Linked DNA regions of Homo sapiens. The protein of the gene in region 1 purifies or fractionates together with the protein of each later gene. This does not show direct contact. Each region holds a gene or a part of one and is shown in the gene's direction. Other genes may lie near its edges. The genes, in order: GAK and INF2.

The links.
Region 2: the proteins of GAK (region 1) and INF2 purify together in Homo sapiens (affinity purification with mass spectrometry; 2 studies listed by BioGRID and IntAct, with this or other methods). This does not show direct contact.

The regions. Positions count from the first base shown.
Region 1 is NC_000004.12:921,710-929,905, reverse strand, and holds part of GAK (cyclin-G-associated kinase), read left to right. Parts: intron 1-8,196. UniProt on the Homo sapiens protein: Associates with cyclin G and CDK5. Seems to act as an auxilin homolog that is involved in the uncoating of clathrin-coated vesicles by Hsc70 in non-neuronal cells. Expression oscillates slightly during the cell cycle, peaking at G1.
Region 2 is NC_000014.9:104,683,931-104,693,115, forward strand, and holds the start of INF2 (inverted formin-2), read left to right. Parts: upstream 1-5,687; 5' UTR 5,688-5,809; intron 5,810-9,185.

The DNA.
Region 1 (8,196 bases):
CTGTAATTAACCCCATATCAGTTCATGTCAGGTTTTATCCCAAATGAGGTTATTATGATAGACCAGGATTTGCTGTCAAGTGAGTTAGGAAAAAATGGTTTTCATAGCTTTTAGGAATTTGGACTTGTGGTGTGAATGGGTTTTTAGGTAGAACTGTGGAACCAGATAGCTTTCTAATTTCTTCAAATTTGTTCTGTCATCTTCCTTTTTTTTTTTTTAATTTAAGAGACGAGGTCTTGCTGTTACTCAGGATGGATTTGAACTGGGCTCTGGATCTTCCTGCCTCGGCCTCCCGAGTAGCTGGGCTTACAGGCATGTGCTGCTGCACCTAGCTAGTCTTCACTTTTTTAAAAGGCAGATTATCAGGAGCACCAACCATGTCAGAGATGCCCAGGGCAGGTGTATGCTGTGTGTTCTTTGTTTTGGGTTCTGCGTGCCGTTGCTTCTGAAGTGGAGCCTGTGGTGCCCTGACTGCAGGGAAATCCACCTTCCCTGTGTGGCTGACTTGAACTCGGGGTTACTGCTAGTGAGATAAATTGAGGCAGAAAAGAAAACGATGCCGCACAGCCGTCGTATGGTTTAAGCGTAACCCGCCTCGTGCGTTTGGTTGGGTGTTGTATGTAATTTGAGCCAGCCCGCAGCCCTTGTGTGCCATGCGCAGTGTTAGCTGAGTGGCTGGGCCCGCTCAGGAGCCTTGGGGGTCAAGCTCTGGCCTAAGGAATGGGGAGGGCACAGCCTACTCCCACCCCCAGGGCCACTTGTGTGTGGTCCTGACTCTCCACCCTTCTTCCTCCTTGACATGGCTTTTGGAGGCTTCCTCCCTTCACTTACTTAGAATGTTCTGGGCCGGGCGCAGTGGCTCACGCCTGTGATCCCAGCACTTTGGGAGGCCGAGGCGGGTGGATTACCTGAGATCGGGAGTTCGAGATCAGCCTGGGCAACACGGGGAAACCCGTCTCTACTAAAAATACAAAATTAGCCGGGTGTGGTGACACATGCCTGTAGTCCCAGCTACTCAGGAGGCTGAGGCAGGAGAATCGCTTGAACCTGGGAGGTGGAGGATGCGGTGAGCCAAGATCACGCCATTGCACTCCAGCCTGGGCAACAAGAGTAAATCTCCGTCTCACCAAAAAAAAAAGAAAAGAAAAAAGAATGTTCTGGACTGGGTGAGGGCACTGTGAATATTTGGTACTGACTGACAGTTGCAGAATCATGTGGTACAAGCAAGACTCTTGGTTGCAAGTTTCAGAAACCCTCCCAGGTGGGCTCAGTGGCAGGAAGGCCCCATGTCTCCAAGGTGGGCTCAGTGGCAGGGGAGGCCGCATGCTGGCCCCATGTGTCCTCCGCAGGGTACACTTGAGATCATTTTCTTTTATTGAAAAGAGTCTGGCTCTGTCGCCCATGTTGAGTGCAGTGGAGCGATCACGACTCACTGCAGCCTTGAACTCCTGGGCCTACGTGATCCCCCTGGCCTAGGCCTCCCAGAGTGCTGGGACGACAGGCATGAGATAATGTGCCCAGCCTTAGACTGATCTTAAAAGTAGACCGGGCCGGGCACGACGGCTCACGCCTGTAATCCCAGCACTTTGGGAGGCCGAGGTGGGCAGATCACCCGAAGTCAGGAGTTCGAAACCAGCCTGACCAACATGGCAAAACCCCATCTCTACTGAAAATACAAAAACTAGCTGGGCATGGTGGCGCGTGCCTGTAATCCCAGCTGCTCAGGAGGCTGAGGCAGGAGAATCACTTGAACCTGGGAGGTGGAGGCTGCAGTGAGCTAAGATTGCACCACTGCACTCCAGCCTGGACGACAGAGCGAGACTCTATCTCAAAAAAAAGTAGACCCTTAGGTTGCTGTGGCGAGCCAGCCTTGTAGCCGACCCTCTTCCCACATAGGACTTGTGACTGAGGGCACCAGCCTCTGAAGCTCCGTGCTGTTCTCTTGGCCATGTGACTGAGGGCACCAGCCTCTGCAGCTCTGTGCTGTTCTCTTAGCCACCAGGGTTCTGTCATCCTTGCTTCTTTGTACCTCTCCTGGACCCAGAGCCTGAAGTGCGGTGGCTGCGCTCACCCAGGGAGGGGTGCGGGGCCTGCGCTCACCCAGGGAGGGGTGCGGGGCAGTGCAGAGCGCAGGTAAGCAGGGAGGGGTGCGGGGCAGTGCAGAGCGCAGGTAAGCAGGGAGGGGTGCGGGGCAGTGCGGAGGGCAGGTGAGCGGGGAGGGGTGCGGGGCAGTGCGGACTACAGGTGAGCGGGGAGGGGTGCGGGGCAGTGCGGACTGCAGGTGAGCCGGGAGGGGTGCGGGGCAGTGCGGACTGCAGGTGAGCCGGGAGGGGTGCGGGGCAGTGCGGACTGCAGGTGAGCCGGGAGGGGTGCGGGGCAGTGCGGACCGCAGGTGAGCGGGGAGGGGTGCGGACTGCAGGTGAGCCGGGAGGGGTGCGGGGCAGTGCGGACTGCAGGTGAGCGGGGAGGGGTGCGGGGCAGTGCGGACTGCAGGTGAGCCGGGAGGGGTGCGGGGCAGTGCGGACTGCAGGTGAGCGGGGAGGGGTGCGGGGCAGTGCGGACTGCAGGTGAGCCGGGAGGGGTGCGGGGCAGTGCGGACTGCAGGTGAGCGGGGAGGGGTGCGGGGCAGTGCGGAGCGCAGGTGAGCCGGGAGGGGTGTGGGGCAGTGCGGAGGGCAGGTGAGCCGGGAGGGGTGCGGGGCAGTGCGGACTGCAGGTGAGCCGGGAGGGGTGCGGGGCAGTGCGGAGCGCAGGTGAGCCGGGAGGGGTGTGGGGCAGTGCGGACTGCAGGTGAGCGGGGAGGGGTGCGGGGCAGTGCGGACTGCAGGTGAGCGGGAAGGGGTGCGGGGCAGTGCGGAGCGCAGGTGAGCGGGGAGGGGTGCGGGGCAGTGCGGAGCGCTGGTGAGCCGGGAGGGGTGCGGGGCAGTGCGGAGCGCAGGTGAGCGGGGAGGGGTGCGGGGCAGTGCGGAGCGCTGGTGAGCCGGGAGGGGTGCGGGGCAGTGCGGAGCGCAGGTGAGCGGGGTGGGGGGGGTTGCGGGGCAGTGCGGAGCGCAGGTGAGCTGGGAGGGGTGCGGGGCAGTGCGGAGCGCAGGTAAGCAGGGTCTCTGGGGCTTGGTTAGTTGGTTCTAGGTCATCAGGCCTGTGAGGCCCAGATTCTGCCACAGAGTAGCTGCCCCCTGGCGGCTCTCCTGGTACCAACCGCCTTCACTTCCAAGTTGACAGCTTGATCATCAACATTTGTCCACTTTGGCTAGTTCCCAGCGTGAAGTAAAAATGGTCAGAACCACCACAGCAACCCTTAGGGGCTCTTCGTATTTGCCGAGCATGGTCAGTAGTACTTTATGTGGATTGTGTGGTCCTCACAGTAGCCCTGGAAAGTGGGTACTATAATTACTTCCATCTCGCAGAAGAGAAAAGTGACGTTTGCAGAGATTAGTTGCTTGCCAGAGGTCGAGTGGTGGAGTGGGGGCTGGGAGCCCCAGGGAGGTGTCCTTAGGGCCCCTGTCCTGGCCCCCGTTGCTCTGCGCATTGTGCCCTGGAGGAGATGTCTGAGCATATAAGGTAGTAGAGGCTGTTGGGGCGGAGAGTGACAGGCCAACACCACTTCATGCTCAGCTGCGGCTGACCCTTGGCAGGAACAAGCCTGTGTTACTTCTGTGGTTTCTGTCTGTTAACATACAGGGAGGTCACTCTTGGGGAGGACCCCATGGGTGGGCTCACCATTGGGGGAGGTCACTGTCGAGGGAGGACCCCCTGGGGTGAATTAGACGTTCGGGGAGGTCACTGTCCAGGGAGGACCCCCTGGGGTGAATTAGACGTTTGGGGAGGTCACTGTCGGGGGAGGACCCCCTTGGGGTGAATTAGACGTTCGGGGAGGTCACTGTTGGGGACGACCCCCGGGTGGGCTCACCACTGGGGGAGGTGACAGTTGGGCTGGGCCACTCCCCTTTCCTCCTCCTCCACTCCGTGGACTCCTGGTGAATTGCTCATGGTTGTCTGTGTGGGTGCGCATCCCCGTGTCCCAGTCCGTCTGTGCTGCTGTAACAGAACGTCGTACACTGGGGGCCTATAAACCACAGACGTTTGTTTATTCCTCACGGCTCTGCAGGCTGGAAGTCCAGGCGCAAGGCGCCGGCAGATCTGGTGTCTGGTGAGGTCCAGCACCTTCTCGCTGTGTCCTCACAGGGCAGAAGGGGTGAGGGAGTGCTCTCTGGGGCAGTAATCCCAGTCCTGAGGGCTCCACCTTCATGGCCTAGTCACCCCCAAGGAGGCCCCACCTCCTAACACCATCACCTTGGGTATTAGGATTTCACACAGGAATTTTGGAGGGGACACAGATTCATTCTGTAGTGTTGTGAATTATGTGTGTATTGAAAATGTTGGTATGTGGTATTTTACGTTAGAAAAGTGTCTGTTTCTTAAAAGAGGCCGAGTTGATTAAAAAAGATACTCAGATCTGCCTGTAGTGGTCCTGTACTGACCTCACTGTCCCCCGGCACTCTGTCCCGTCCCCAGCGTGCTCCGTGCATCCTACACGCATCCTGGTGAGAGGTGTCCTCAGCCCTTTGCATGGACGCTGGTGGGCTGTGTGGGGGAAGGTTGCCCAGCTCTGCTCATGGGGCCTGCAGGCTGCTCGGGGGCACCAGACTCTAGTGTCCCAAGTCCTCAGAGTGTCCCCTGGGGGTTTGTTTTATTTGGACATTTTGATGGGTTTAAAAAGTGTCAAGCTTTGATTTGTGCCTTTCTGAGTAGCGAGTTTGGTAATGCTTATTTGCTGCTCAGCCTCCCCTTCTGGCATTGCACATTCATATCCTGTGCCTGTTATTTTTTTATTCTTATTTTTTTGAGATAGAGTCTTGTTGTGTTGCCCAGGCTGTAGTACAGGGGTGTGATCTCAGATCCTGGCAACCTCCTCCTGAGAGCAGCCCCCGGGCAGAACTCCACCCCCATGACCCAATCAGATCTCACAGGAGAGCACTCACTATCCTGAGAGCAGCCCCTGGGGGAACTCCACCACCACAACCCAATCAGATCTCACAGGAGAGCACTCACTATCCTGAGAGCAGCCCCCCGGGGGAACTCCACCCCCACGACCCAATCAGATCTCACAGGAGAGCACTCACTATCCTGAGAGCAGCCCCGGGAGGAACTCCACACCCATGGCCCAGTCAGATCTCACTATCCTGAGAGCAGCCACGCCATGGGGAACTCCGCCCCATAATCCGGTCACCTCCCACCAGGCCCCTCCTCCAACATTGAGGGTCACAAGTGAACATGAGATTTGCATGGGGACGCAGATCCAAACCGTATGTGCTGTTATGAATAAAGATCCAAACCGTGTCCGCTGTTATGAATAAAGATCCAAACCGTATCCGCTGTTATGAATAAAGGTGCCGAGAACATTTTTTTTCAAGTCTTTTTGTGGACGTGTGTTTTTCTTTGTCTTGGGTAAAAAATACCAAGGAGTAGGATTGCTGATTTACAGGTTGGATTTAGGTTGAACTTCACATGAAACAACCAAACCTCCTTCCACGGTAGCTGCACCATTTTACATTTCCACCAGCTGCAGTGGAGAGTTCCTGGCTCTCCACTTCCTCACCAGCATTTCTTGTGGTCTCTCATTTTGATTACATCCATTCTTGTGAGTGTGCAGTGGTGTCGATCTCATTGTGATTTCATTGGAATTTCCCTGATGATGATGTTCAGCAATTTTTTTTTTTTTTTTTTTTTGAGAGGGAGTCTTGCCCAGGCTGGAGTGCAGTGGCTCCATCTTGGCTCACGGCAAGCTCCACCTCCCAGGTTCAAACAATTCTCCTGCCTCAGCCTCCCAACTAGCTGGGATTAAAGGCATGCACCACCATGCCCAGCTAATTTTGTATTTTTTAGTAGAAATGGGGTGTCACTATGTTGGTCAGGCTGGTCTCAAACTCCTGACCTCAGGTCACCCGCCGGCCTTGGCCTCCCAAAGTGCTGGGATTACAGGCATGAGCCACGGCGCCTGGCCTTTTTGTCCATTTTTTATTGGGCAGGGAGTTTCTGCTTACTCTGGATACAGGTCTTATGTTTATATATTTATATAATTTATGTGAGAAAGAGAAGGCAAGCCTTAGCTGTGGTCACTCTGCTGTCCCAGGCCAGGCTGCCTCAGGGAACCTGGGCCTTGAGATTTGACCTGGCTTGAGCATTTGATGTCTCTGTGCCTCCACTCCCCACCCCTCCACTCCCTGCCCTTGAGATGAGGTCTTGCTTTGTTGCCCAGGCTGGAGTGCAGTGGCATGATCACAGCTCACCACAGTCTTGAACTCCCGGACTCAAGCGATCCTCCCACCTCAGCCTCCCAGGTAGCTGGGACCACAGGCACGCACCACCACGCCTGGCTAATTTTTAATTTATTTCTGGTAGAGATGGAGTCTTGTTATGTTGCCTGTAGGCTGTTCTCAGAACTCCTGGGCTCAAGTGATTCTCCCACCTCGGCCTCCCAAAGTGCTGGGATTGCAGGTGTCAGCCACTGTGCCTGGCCTGTGCCTGTTCCTTAATTGGCAGAGTGTGTGCTGTAAAATGTATATAACAGGGTCTTGGAGGTACCCGACATGCCATTCTTTAATGTCTTATACGTTACTATTATTTTTAAATAAACTGTATTATTTTGAGTTCATTGTAGGTTCCCACGCGGCTGTGAGAAAAGATGGAGATCTTTTCTATTTTAGACCCTTGCCTGGTTTCCCCAGTGGTGACGGTCGGGATGCTAACCCTGGTGCAGGTGAGGCTGTGGAAGTCTCCATCCCCGTAGGGAGCCCTCATGCCACCTCTCAGCCACGCCATTTCCTTACCCTCTGGAAACCTCTAGTCTTTGCTCTGTCTGTGATTTTGTCATTCGAAGGATGCAGTGTAAGGGGAAGTGCAGAATTCTTCAGGTAATTGTGTGTCAGTAGCTTGTTTCCCGTGGTGAGACTCCTCTGCGTGAGTGTGCACGGCTTGCCCAGCCAGCCACCCGTGGAAGGACATCTGGGCTGTTTCCTGTTTTGGCTACTACAGATAAAGCTGCTGTGACACTTGCGTATAGGTTTTTGTGTGAATATACGTTTTCATTTCTGGGATAAATGTTTAAGAGTGCAGTTGCTGGTTCATGTGTGGTAATTATGTGTTTAGTTTGTTAGAAAACTGCCAGATTGTTTTCTTGAGTGGCCATACATTCCCACCAGCAATGTAGGAGCGTATCAGCCTGGTTAGGCTGCCATAACAAAATACTCCAGACTGAGTGGGGAGCAGTAGAAATTCACTCTCGCAGTTCTGGAGGCTTGAAGGCCAAGAGCAAGATGCTGTCAGTGCTGATTCCAGGAGAGGCCTCTTTTGCTGGTTTGCAGATGCTGCCTTTTTTTTTTTTTTTTTTTTGAGATGGAGTCTCGCTCTGTCACCCAGACTGGAGTGCAGTGGCGCAATCTCAGCTCACTGCAACCTCTGCCTCCTGGGTTCAAGCAGTTCTCTTGCCTCAGTTTCCTGAGTAGCTGGGACTACAGGCGCCCACCACCATGCGCCGCTGATTTTTGTATTTTTAGTAGAGACGGGGTTTCACCATGTTTCCCAGGTTGGTCTCAAACTCACGACCTCAAGTGATCTGCCCGCCTCGGCCTCCGAAAGTGCTGGGATCACAGGCCTGAGCCACCGCGCCCGGCCGATGCTGCCTTTTTGCTGAGGGGATGCTGACATCTCTGGTGTGTCTTCATCTTATAAGGACACCAGTCCTATTGGATTAGGGCCCCACTCGTATGAACTTATTTATCCTTCATTACTTGAGGGCCCGTCTCCGCATAGGGTCATCTGGGGCTTCCGCAGATGCATTTTGGGGGCACACAGTTGAGTCCCTAACAGCGAGTTTCTCTTTGTACTCACCAGCATTTGGCGTCGTGGTTTTTACTGTGATCATTGTGATACATGTGTAGCGATACCTCCTTGTGGTTTTGATTTGCATTTTCCCGATAGCTTGGGAGTGCTTCTTTGCCATCTGCATATCTTCAGGGGTGAAATGTCTGTTCATGTCTTTTGCCCACTTCCTAATTATGTTTTTTTGACCAAGTTTTGAGTGTTCTTTATTGTAGATTTAAGTCCTTCGTAGACATGGGGTTTTCAAGTATCTGTTCCTAGTCTGCAGCTTGTCCTTTCGTCCCCTAAACAGGATCTTTTTGGACGCAAACTCAGA
Region 2 (9,185 bases), on another chromosome or scaffold:
GGGTGCGGGTGGGTCTCAGGCACTTCCCTGCTCTCAAAGGAGCACCTCCAGGGAGCCCATCTGGTGCTCCCTCCAGCTCCTCAAATTCCCAACACCAGGGTTGCAAGGCCCAGTGTCTTCTCACCTCGTTAGGTGGAGAACCCCTTCTTTAAGCAAAAGATGGCACGGACCCCCGACATAAGACAGTTCAAAGCTGAGCGGCTCTCCCCATCATGCAAGTAACCTGCGTGCCGCCACGGGAAACAGCACGCATCCCATCTGGACTCCCACCAGACAACTGAGGCAACCGAGAAGGAGGCTGGGGAGGGACAGCTCGAGGGCTCACTGGAGGTCAGCAGGGAGGTGGACTGCGTCTCCCGAGGGCCAGCACTGGCTTAGCCTGCTCAGTGAGGTGCCCGAAGGAGGCCCACCAGCTCTGCCAGCACCCGGCCTCTGCACCTCAGCTTTCAGCGGATAGGTTTGTGCAACGAAATATTTCATAGAAATCAAGAAACATGAGTGAACGATGCACACCACCGCGTGGATGAGTCTCAGAGACTGTGGAGCGAAAGAAGCCAGACACAAAGGTTGACATTTACACGCAATCCTAGAATGACGGCTCTATGGTGGCAGAGAGGAGAAAAGCAGTTAGCTTTGGCAGGTGCCCACGGAGGGGGCTATGCAATGGAACTTTCTGGGCCCTGGAGGTGTTGCAGAGTTTGCTATGGGTGGTGGTAGTTACGTGGGTTTCTATGAATGTAAAAACTCTTGGTGTGGTAGACCCAAGCTCTGGGCACCTCACGCATGCCATGCAGCAGCTCGATCTGTGACAGCGAGTCCTGTGTTCCATGATATGGCTGCAAACACTTGACAGAGTGAATGCCGAACCTCTGCTCCTAAGGGAAATAGAGGGCCAGGTTCCTACGAGCCTCTGCTCCAGCCTTTTCAGCAACCAATCAGTACACAATAGAGTTATTTATGTGTTTCTGTTAATATATGTCACTAAACTCCCGGCCAAGAGCACTACAACTCATGCCTGTACAGAGCCTGTCCAACACATGTATTTTCTCCATAGGACACATCATCTCAAAAGCAAGTATTGATCTTATTTTATCTCATTTTCAAGAGATGCAGACTGTTCTTAAGCAAGTACTGGTTTTAGGTTTACAAATACATTTTAGCGAGTAGGCAAATTTGCAAGTACAGAATCTGTAAATAATGAGATTCTACTGTATGTGTGTGCAATATTCAAATGAAGAGGACAGAGCTTCCTGCCTGACACAAGCCCCTGACTGACTGCCCCACCCACCGTCCCTTCTAAGAGCAGCAGCCTGGTCCCAGCTCTTGCCTTCCCTCCTCAGACCAGGGATAAGCCCTGACCAATGTCTACCTCCTGCAGCCAGACACAGACAGGCTGACTCAGGTGCTCTTGGAGTTTGAACTGAGAAATGCAAGAGAAGCTTGCAAAATGCTGAGAGGCTCCACAAGGGGCTGCTGAAGCCCCAGCAGGCAAAGCTGCCAGCTACAGAGCAAAAAGCCAAGGGAGGGGCAGGGATGTTGGAGGAAGGACCTGGCTGGAGGTGACTGGGGGCGGTCGTGTCCTTGTCAGCAAGCATAGAGCAGAACAGCTGCCCAAGGTGCCACAGCTGGAAGGGTGAGTGGGTGGATGGGTGGATGAAAGGGTGGGTGGGTGGGTGGATGGGTGGATGAATGGGTGGGTAGGTGGGGGGATGGGTGGATGAGTGGATGATGGCTGGGTAGGTGGATGGGTGGATGAGTAGGTGGATGGATGTGTTGGTGGATAGGTGGGTGGGTGGATGGATGAATGGATGGGCAGATGGATGGATAAGGGTGGGTGCATGGGTGGATGAATGGGTGAGTAGGTGGGTGGATGGGTGGATGAGTGGATGATGGGTGGGTAGGCCGATGGGTAAGTGGATGGTGGGTGGATGGATGGATGGGTGGGTGGATGGATGAATGAATGGGCAGATGAATGGATGAGGGTGGGTGGGTGAGTGGCAAATGGGTGGGTAAGTGGGGGGATGGGTGCATGAGTGGATGATGGGTGGGTAGGTGGATGGATGGATGGGTAGGTGGGTGGATAGGTGGGTGGGTAGGTGGGTGGGTGGATGGACAAATAGATGGGCAGATGGATGGATGAGGGTGGGTGGATCAGTCGGTGGGTAGGTGGTTAGATGGGTGGATGAGTGGATGATGGGTAGGTGGATGGGTAGATGGATGAAGGGATGGGCAGATGGATGGATGAGTAGATGATAGGTGGGTAGGTGGATGGGTGGATGGGTAGGTGGATGGATGTGTGAGTGGATAGGTGGGTGGGTGGATAGATGAATGGATGGGCAGATGGATGGATAAGGGTAGGTGGATGAATGGGTGGGTAGGTGGGTGGATGGGTGGATGAGTGGATTAAGGGTGAATAGGTGGATGGGTAGGTGTATGGATAAGTGGATGGACAGATGGGTGGGTGGATGGATGAATGGATAGGCAGATGGATGGATGAGGGTGGGTGGGTGAATGGGTGGGTAGGTGGGTGAACAGACGGATGAAGTGTGGGTGTGTGTGGGAATGGATGGATGAATGGGTGAATGGGTACATAGGTGGGCAAGGTGGGTGGACATGGGTGAGCAGGCATGTTTTCACTTACTTCATTCTGTAACAATGTCAGAGATCATCTCAGGGCACCACAGTAGGATGCAAAATAAAATCTCAAAAGGGGAAAAAAGATAAAAAGCATTCTGGGTGCTGAACTGATGAAGGAAATGAACCCATGGCCAGGCTGCTGCTCAGGTGGACCCCAGGAAGCCCTTCTGGGCCTGCAAGTGGCCGCCTGCTGCATGCAGGGCTGTCCTGACTGCACGGCGGCGCCAACATCAGGCTGGGAGGATTTCTCTCAGAACGCCCACACCTGCCTGCCTGTTTCTAGCAGAACTCAAGCTGTCGGTGCCAAGGCCTGCTCTCCCCTCATCCCAATCTTCCAGCAAGAGGCAGAGGCAAGCTCTCCACAGGCCTACAGTGGCAGGGCCACTCTTGCACTCTGTGCCAGTGGCCAGGAACATGTGGCTCCGCCTGGGTGTGTCACAGTACCAGCCTGTACCTGCACGACCCTGTTCTCAGGCATCTGGGTACCTGCAGCTGGGGGCCGGCACTTGTGTACCCGGCTCCGAGGAAGGACCGACACCCAGGAGGGGAGGCTCCAGGCAGGCCATGGCTTCCAGGAAGCAGCTCCGGAAGCCGCAGGCAGTGGCTGCAGGTGGTGTGTTTCTGAGGCCAAATCGGTCCTCTCTTCAACCCCAGGGCCAGGAAGCAAGCTCAGAATAGGGCCAGGATGGAGTCTGGGAGCGCTGGAGGTACAGAGGGTTGAGGGTGAGCCACTGAAGGAGAAGAGGAGGGGGCCTCTGTATGTCTCAGAAAATCAGTGCTCAAGCCGGGTTGAACCCTGCTGCCCCGGGCATGGTGGGTTCAAGCCTGACGGAAAACCCCCTTTCAGTGTCCACATTTCCACCCTCCCAGACCTCTGACCTCGGCCTCCACTCCACACACACACACACACATACACACACACACACACAGACACACACTCTTAATCAGGGCCCAAAGCCCTCCTCTGCACTCCCTGCCGACCCCAGGGACTTCTCCAACCTCTCTCCAACTAAATCACATTCACCCCACCTTCTTCACCCTGCTCCGGCCTGTGCTGGCCTCTCTGGACCAGGTGTGCAGCTCGGAAGCACGACTGGGTGCAAGGGAGACAGCCCCAGGCAGGAGCGGCCCTGGGGGCGCTGGGCCTCCCTCCCCCATCAGGGCAGGAAAGGTGGACCCCTCGCCCACACCTGACCTCCTACTCCAGCCTCTGAGTAAGGCTCAGGACTCTGACTTTCCCCCAGGCAGGTGGACAGGGGAGGGGGCTGCAGGTCAAAGCTCACTCCCCACCAACCTCCTCACATTCCTCCATTCACTGGATCAACAAACACACCCACTGCCCAGCACCGCTGCCAGGCATCAGCTCCCAACGCAGATGAGTCAGCCCCGCCCGTGCCCTCCAGGGTGGGGTGGTACCAGGGCAGGCACCAATGTTCGGGTCCAGGAGTGCACCAGGAGACCCAAAGCCCAGCTTGAGGGAGGGCAGGAAGGCCTTCTGCTCTGGAAGGGGCCCTGGAGCCCGGTGTGGAGGGCCGGAGGCCGGCCTTCCAGGTGCATTCCAAGAATTGCAGAGTGCCTGTCTAGGAGCAGCGGCCGCCCAGGTTGGAGGGTGTCCAGTGAGCGCCTGCCTTGGCTGGCTCCTCAGGCACACCCGGGGCTGTGGCCTGCAGCTGCTCCTGCACTGGGGCTGAGCCAGCAAACTTCCGGGGCTGGGGCTGCTGGGCAGGGCAAGGTCCGCACAGGGAGCAGACAGACGCAGCCTGCAATTCGGCGCTTATCCCCACCGGAGCGGAGGCACACCAAAGCCAAAGGACACGCAGCTGGCCTCAAAGCAGAAGCTGCATCGGGGCTGGGAAGCCATTCAGGAGCCCTTTTCTCTCCCCTCGCCCTCACCCTGAGCCCTGGCCGCCACGGCCCACACAGCAGGCCCTCCGGAGAGAGATGTCAGGACTCCGAGTGGAGACACTTTATCCGCATGTTCTTGACCCTCATACAGCCCTTACGGGTACTTATTCTATTTTACAGATGGGGAAACTGAGGCTCCACAGAGTCATATCCGAGCCTGAGGCCGCACAGGGAGTGCTGGCGCCGGTTCTCAGGGCAGGGGTTGTGTCTGCTCTGTCACATGTCACACGGGGGCTCCCCCAGGCCTGCCTTCCTCTGCCCTCCCTCTAGCTGCCAGTGGCCCCCAAACCCCAGGCCTGGTGCGCTGCTTCCTGCAGCTCTGACTGAGGGTCAGACGTCAGAAGGGACTTCCAGAGCTGGGGTCTGGCTCTCATCCAACCAGGCTGGCTTTCAGAGCCGACTATGGGCACGCCCCATGCTGGTCAATGTCGGCGGTGGGGGGATGGGTGCCCCCCTCAATCTAGGAGACAGATGAGGCCGGACAGCAGAGGGGTGGCAGAGAAAACCCACCCCATTGCGACACCTCCGCGGCCCTCATGCAGCTGTCTCCACCAACCGGCGAAGTGCGGCTGCCCAAGACCGCCGAGACCCCATCAAGGGTGGAAGGGGGTCAGGCAGGGCTGCGGAGAGGAGGCCACATGGGTGGCCTGGTTGATGGGTAGGCTCTCTCTCCCCAAAGCCTGGGAAGAGCCATCTCTGCTGAGGGATCCCCGAACGCGGGGACTCCGGATCCGGCTGGCTGGAACGGGAGTCCCGGGCCGGGGCAGAGAGAGGTGAGCGGCGCCTGGGAGGCCAGTCCCACCGGAGGATAGGGGTGTAGGTGGACGGGAGGCGGTGGAGGGCAGGGACGGGGCGGACAGTGGGGGCTGAGGCGGGAGACGGCCCCGATCTGCGCGTCCCACCCCCATCTCCGCCCACCAGGAGCCAGGCCAGCAGGGACCGCGAGGGGGCGGCCAGGTTATTCACGGGAGTGGGGAGACCCCTTAAAGCGCCCTCAGGGACCGGCCACAGTGGGCGGGGCCACCCCCAGCCACCCACCTCCCCCCCCAGGCCCCGCCCCCGGCCCGCGCTCGCTCCCCACGTGGCCGCTGACGGGCGGGGCGGCACCTCCTCTTCCTCCCGCCCGCCCCGCCCGCCCCGCGCCCGCCAGGAGCCACCGTCCGAGCCTTGCGGAGCGCGGCAGTGGGCGCCGGCTGCCCGCAGCCCCTGACCCGGCCCCGGACGGAGCGCCGGCCGCACCACCGCCCTCTGGCCGTTGCCTCACCGGGTAAGTCCTTGGCCTCGGGGTCCGCTTGGAGCTTCAGGGGAAACTGAGTCCGGGAGGAGGCAGGGGCGTGCTTGGGTCCAGGAGCGAGGTTCCGGGCTGCGGCGTGTGTGCCCAGGTGGCGGCGGGCGGTCCGGCGGCGCAGGGTACAGTTCCCGGGCGGGGACCCCAGGGCGCCCCTGGCCCCCCCGGCTCCGCGCGCCCCGCTCGGGACTATGGTCCTCCGCGCCGAGGCACCGCCCGAGCGCGCACTGGCCGCAGAGTGGTGGGCCCAGGGTCGGCCGGGCCTACTCCCAGGGCAGGCGGGATTTCCGCGCCTCGCGGCTGCCACATCCTGACCATGAATCAGCCACAGTTGGGAAAATAAACTTCAACTTCGGGTCCGCCGCCCGGGTGGCACCCCGAGGTGCGCGCCGGCCTGCGGCCCCACCCTGACTGCTTGGCTTCCAGCTGCCCACGCGCAGGTGGGCGCACAGGGAGCCCTTCCCACCCCGCAACCGCTGGCAGGCTTAGGGGAATCAGCCTCCATCACAGCTCTCTGTTCCTTTTGGGTGGGGTAGGATCCAATCCCTGTACGCCCCCAGACCCACCCGTCAACCCTCTAACTGGGGAGTCGCCCCAGGAGTGACCATGACTAAGGAGGGGAAGGCGGGGTGACCAGCTGTGTCCCTGACCGTCCCCAATGCCCCCTGGGGAGCACAGGCGTGGGGGGTGGTCTGTCTGTCTGGGCCTTCTGGGGCTCAAGCTCCCCACCCAGGGCTCCCGCAGCTCAGCTGTGACCACAGCATTACTGCCCACTCCAGCTGGACACACCAGGAGGCAGAGAGGCAGAGACCCTGCCCAGGCAGGGAACCAGGAACCCAGGAACCGGGCCAGAGGTCAGGCACACCCAGAAGGCGCTGGACGTAGGAAATTCCCTTACTGCCAGCCCTGCCCCTCCGTCTGGCACTGGAATGGAGCAGGATACTCGCCCTCTTCCGGCCTCAGTTTCCACATCTGCACTCTGAAGGGTGGGACAGCAGCTCAGGCTGGGACCTGCTCCCTGCCGCCCTGCACTGGGAAGGTGGGGTCCCAGAGCAGTGCCTCAGACCCCGAGGGTGCCACCCAGCCAGGGGCTTTTGGGGTGTCGGTGCTCAGCCCCCAGTGCAGCAAATAGTAGCATTGGGTTCCAGGCCTGGGGTCTGAGACCTCACACTGCTCCCACCCCTACCAGGGCAGCAGCAATTTTCTGTTCTAAAAGCCAGGTTGGTGCAGTGGGCCCTGCCCAGGCCCTGCCCTCCCATCCCTGGACTGTCATGGGCCCTGCAGCCCGGCAAAGGGGATGTCGCTAGTGGGGACGGACCAAGTGGCCAGGTGCGACTGTAGCCTCCACAGCCAGGGCTCCTGAGTTAACCTTCAGGTGAGCGCCCACTTTGTGGAGGAGCTGACGGCTGTCAAGCGAATGACACACACCGCACATGTGGGGACGTGGAAGCTCCTACCTGAAATAGACTCTGCGCCTTCCATCAAAGTGCAGTTACTTCCTGGGTTGGAAAAGTTATGCGGTTCATGCAGGCTGCGGGAGGGGTGGGTGGTGACTGGAAAGTGATGCGGTGCTGCCTGTGGGTGTGGGGCAGGACGCAGCTGGCCCAGCTCTGGACGGGGACAGTGAAGTAAGCTCAAGCCCCTGGCTTTTTGCTGGTGCCTGGAGGTCAAATTTCCCTGTAGTCAGGAATGAGACCTGACTCCCTGCTGCCAGCCCCTCCCCTACCTCCATCTTGCAAACAGCAGGTGTCTGATAGGTGTGTGGTTCATGGCCCAGTGGACACATTACATTGGAGAAGGCACACCCACCTCTGTTTTCAGGATGGTGGACGGGAAGGCCGGGAGGTGGAGGCCACATAGGAGCCAGTCTCTGGAGGGTGGTCCCCAGGGGCCACAGCAGACCCAGGCCTAGTGGACACCTAAAGTCAAAGACTAAGTTCTACCAACGGTGGGAAGGAGAGAGGGCAGGGGCACGGGCTCCCCGTCGCTGGAGGGGTGAGCAGGGTCCAACCACCTGGCCCCCTGTTAGAGAGGCTTCCACTCCTGCCAGCCTCACCCTAGGAGGGAGAGTCCTGCCTGGTCTGCCTCTGAGCACCCAGACAGCCTGGGTCCTGAGCTGGGGTGAGGTCTGCTCACACAGCTGCCCCCCAGCCCAGTGCCGGTATACCCTGGCAACCACCAGGCCAGGAGAGCAGGGCAGACCGGTGGTGCCTGTCCTCTCCTGAGGGGCCGTCCTCTCTCACAGCCCTTTCTAAGCTGTAATTAAATAAGGAACCACAGGGGTTGCTTAGGGTCGCCCCTCTGAGGGCTCATGTCAGTCCCCGAGGGCCAGCCTCAGGCCGGGTCTGTCCACTCACCATTCACGCCAGCCTGGGCAGGGTCTGTGTGCTGGGTGAGTGGGTGAGGAGGAAAGGAATGAGCCAGCCTGCGGGGTCCCTCCGCACGGTCTCCCACCCTCATCCCTCCCAGTGCGACGTGGGTCCTGCAGGAGCGTTCATTTCACAGGTGAGGCGCGGGACAGTCGGTGCCATTTTACACTCAGTGCCATCCATTCTGCCAGGAGGTGCTGATAAAGCCCCTACTGTGTGCATCTGCCCTTGTGCCCAGAGCCTGGAGCCCAGCCCCGCTCAGCACGGTGCCAGGCAGGTGCAGGGCACTTACTGGGGGTCAGGGTGCAAATGGGCTGGCCCCACAGAGTAGCTGGAGGCCGAGGCCCCCCAGCCCTTGTTGCTACCACTGGGGTAGGCTCAGGGTGCTGGCACTGCCACTCTGGGAATAGGACAGGCCTGTCCTGGTCAAGTAGCCATTACCGGGCCTCCAAACTCGGGGGTTGGTGGGGCAGGAATAGGCCCGCCCTCCAGGCAACCACCTGTGTCACTCCAGAGCAGCCCATGCAGACAGACAACTGCCCAAGGGCCAGCCTGGACCCCGGAGCCCTCCCAGCCAGTCGGCCTGGGTCACAGCCTGGGTGGAATGACCAGTGTGGTCACAGCCCAGATGGGATGACTAGCGTGAAGGCCCTGAGGACCTTGCCACGCCAATGGCCAAGGGCAAGGGCCAAGGCTGCTTTCCTCTTTCGCCTGCAGCTTTTCCCAGAGGCAGCAGGGAGGGAGAGAGAGGTACCAGGAGAGTCCTGAGAGAAGGGCCAGCCTGGGCTGCCCCGAGCCTCTGTGCCCTCAGTTCACTCCTGTTCTCACCCCAGAAGGGTGACTGGCCGTGGCTGGGGCACCCTCCATCTCCCTCAGCCCCAACCTCTGTCTGTTGGAAATGGCATGGAGACCCAGAAGGAGCAGATGGGCACCACTGGAGGCCTGGCCAGGCTCCTGGCCGCCGATCAAGGCCTTTGCAGGGTCAG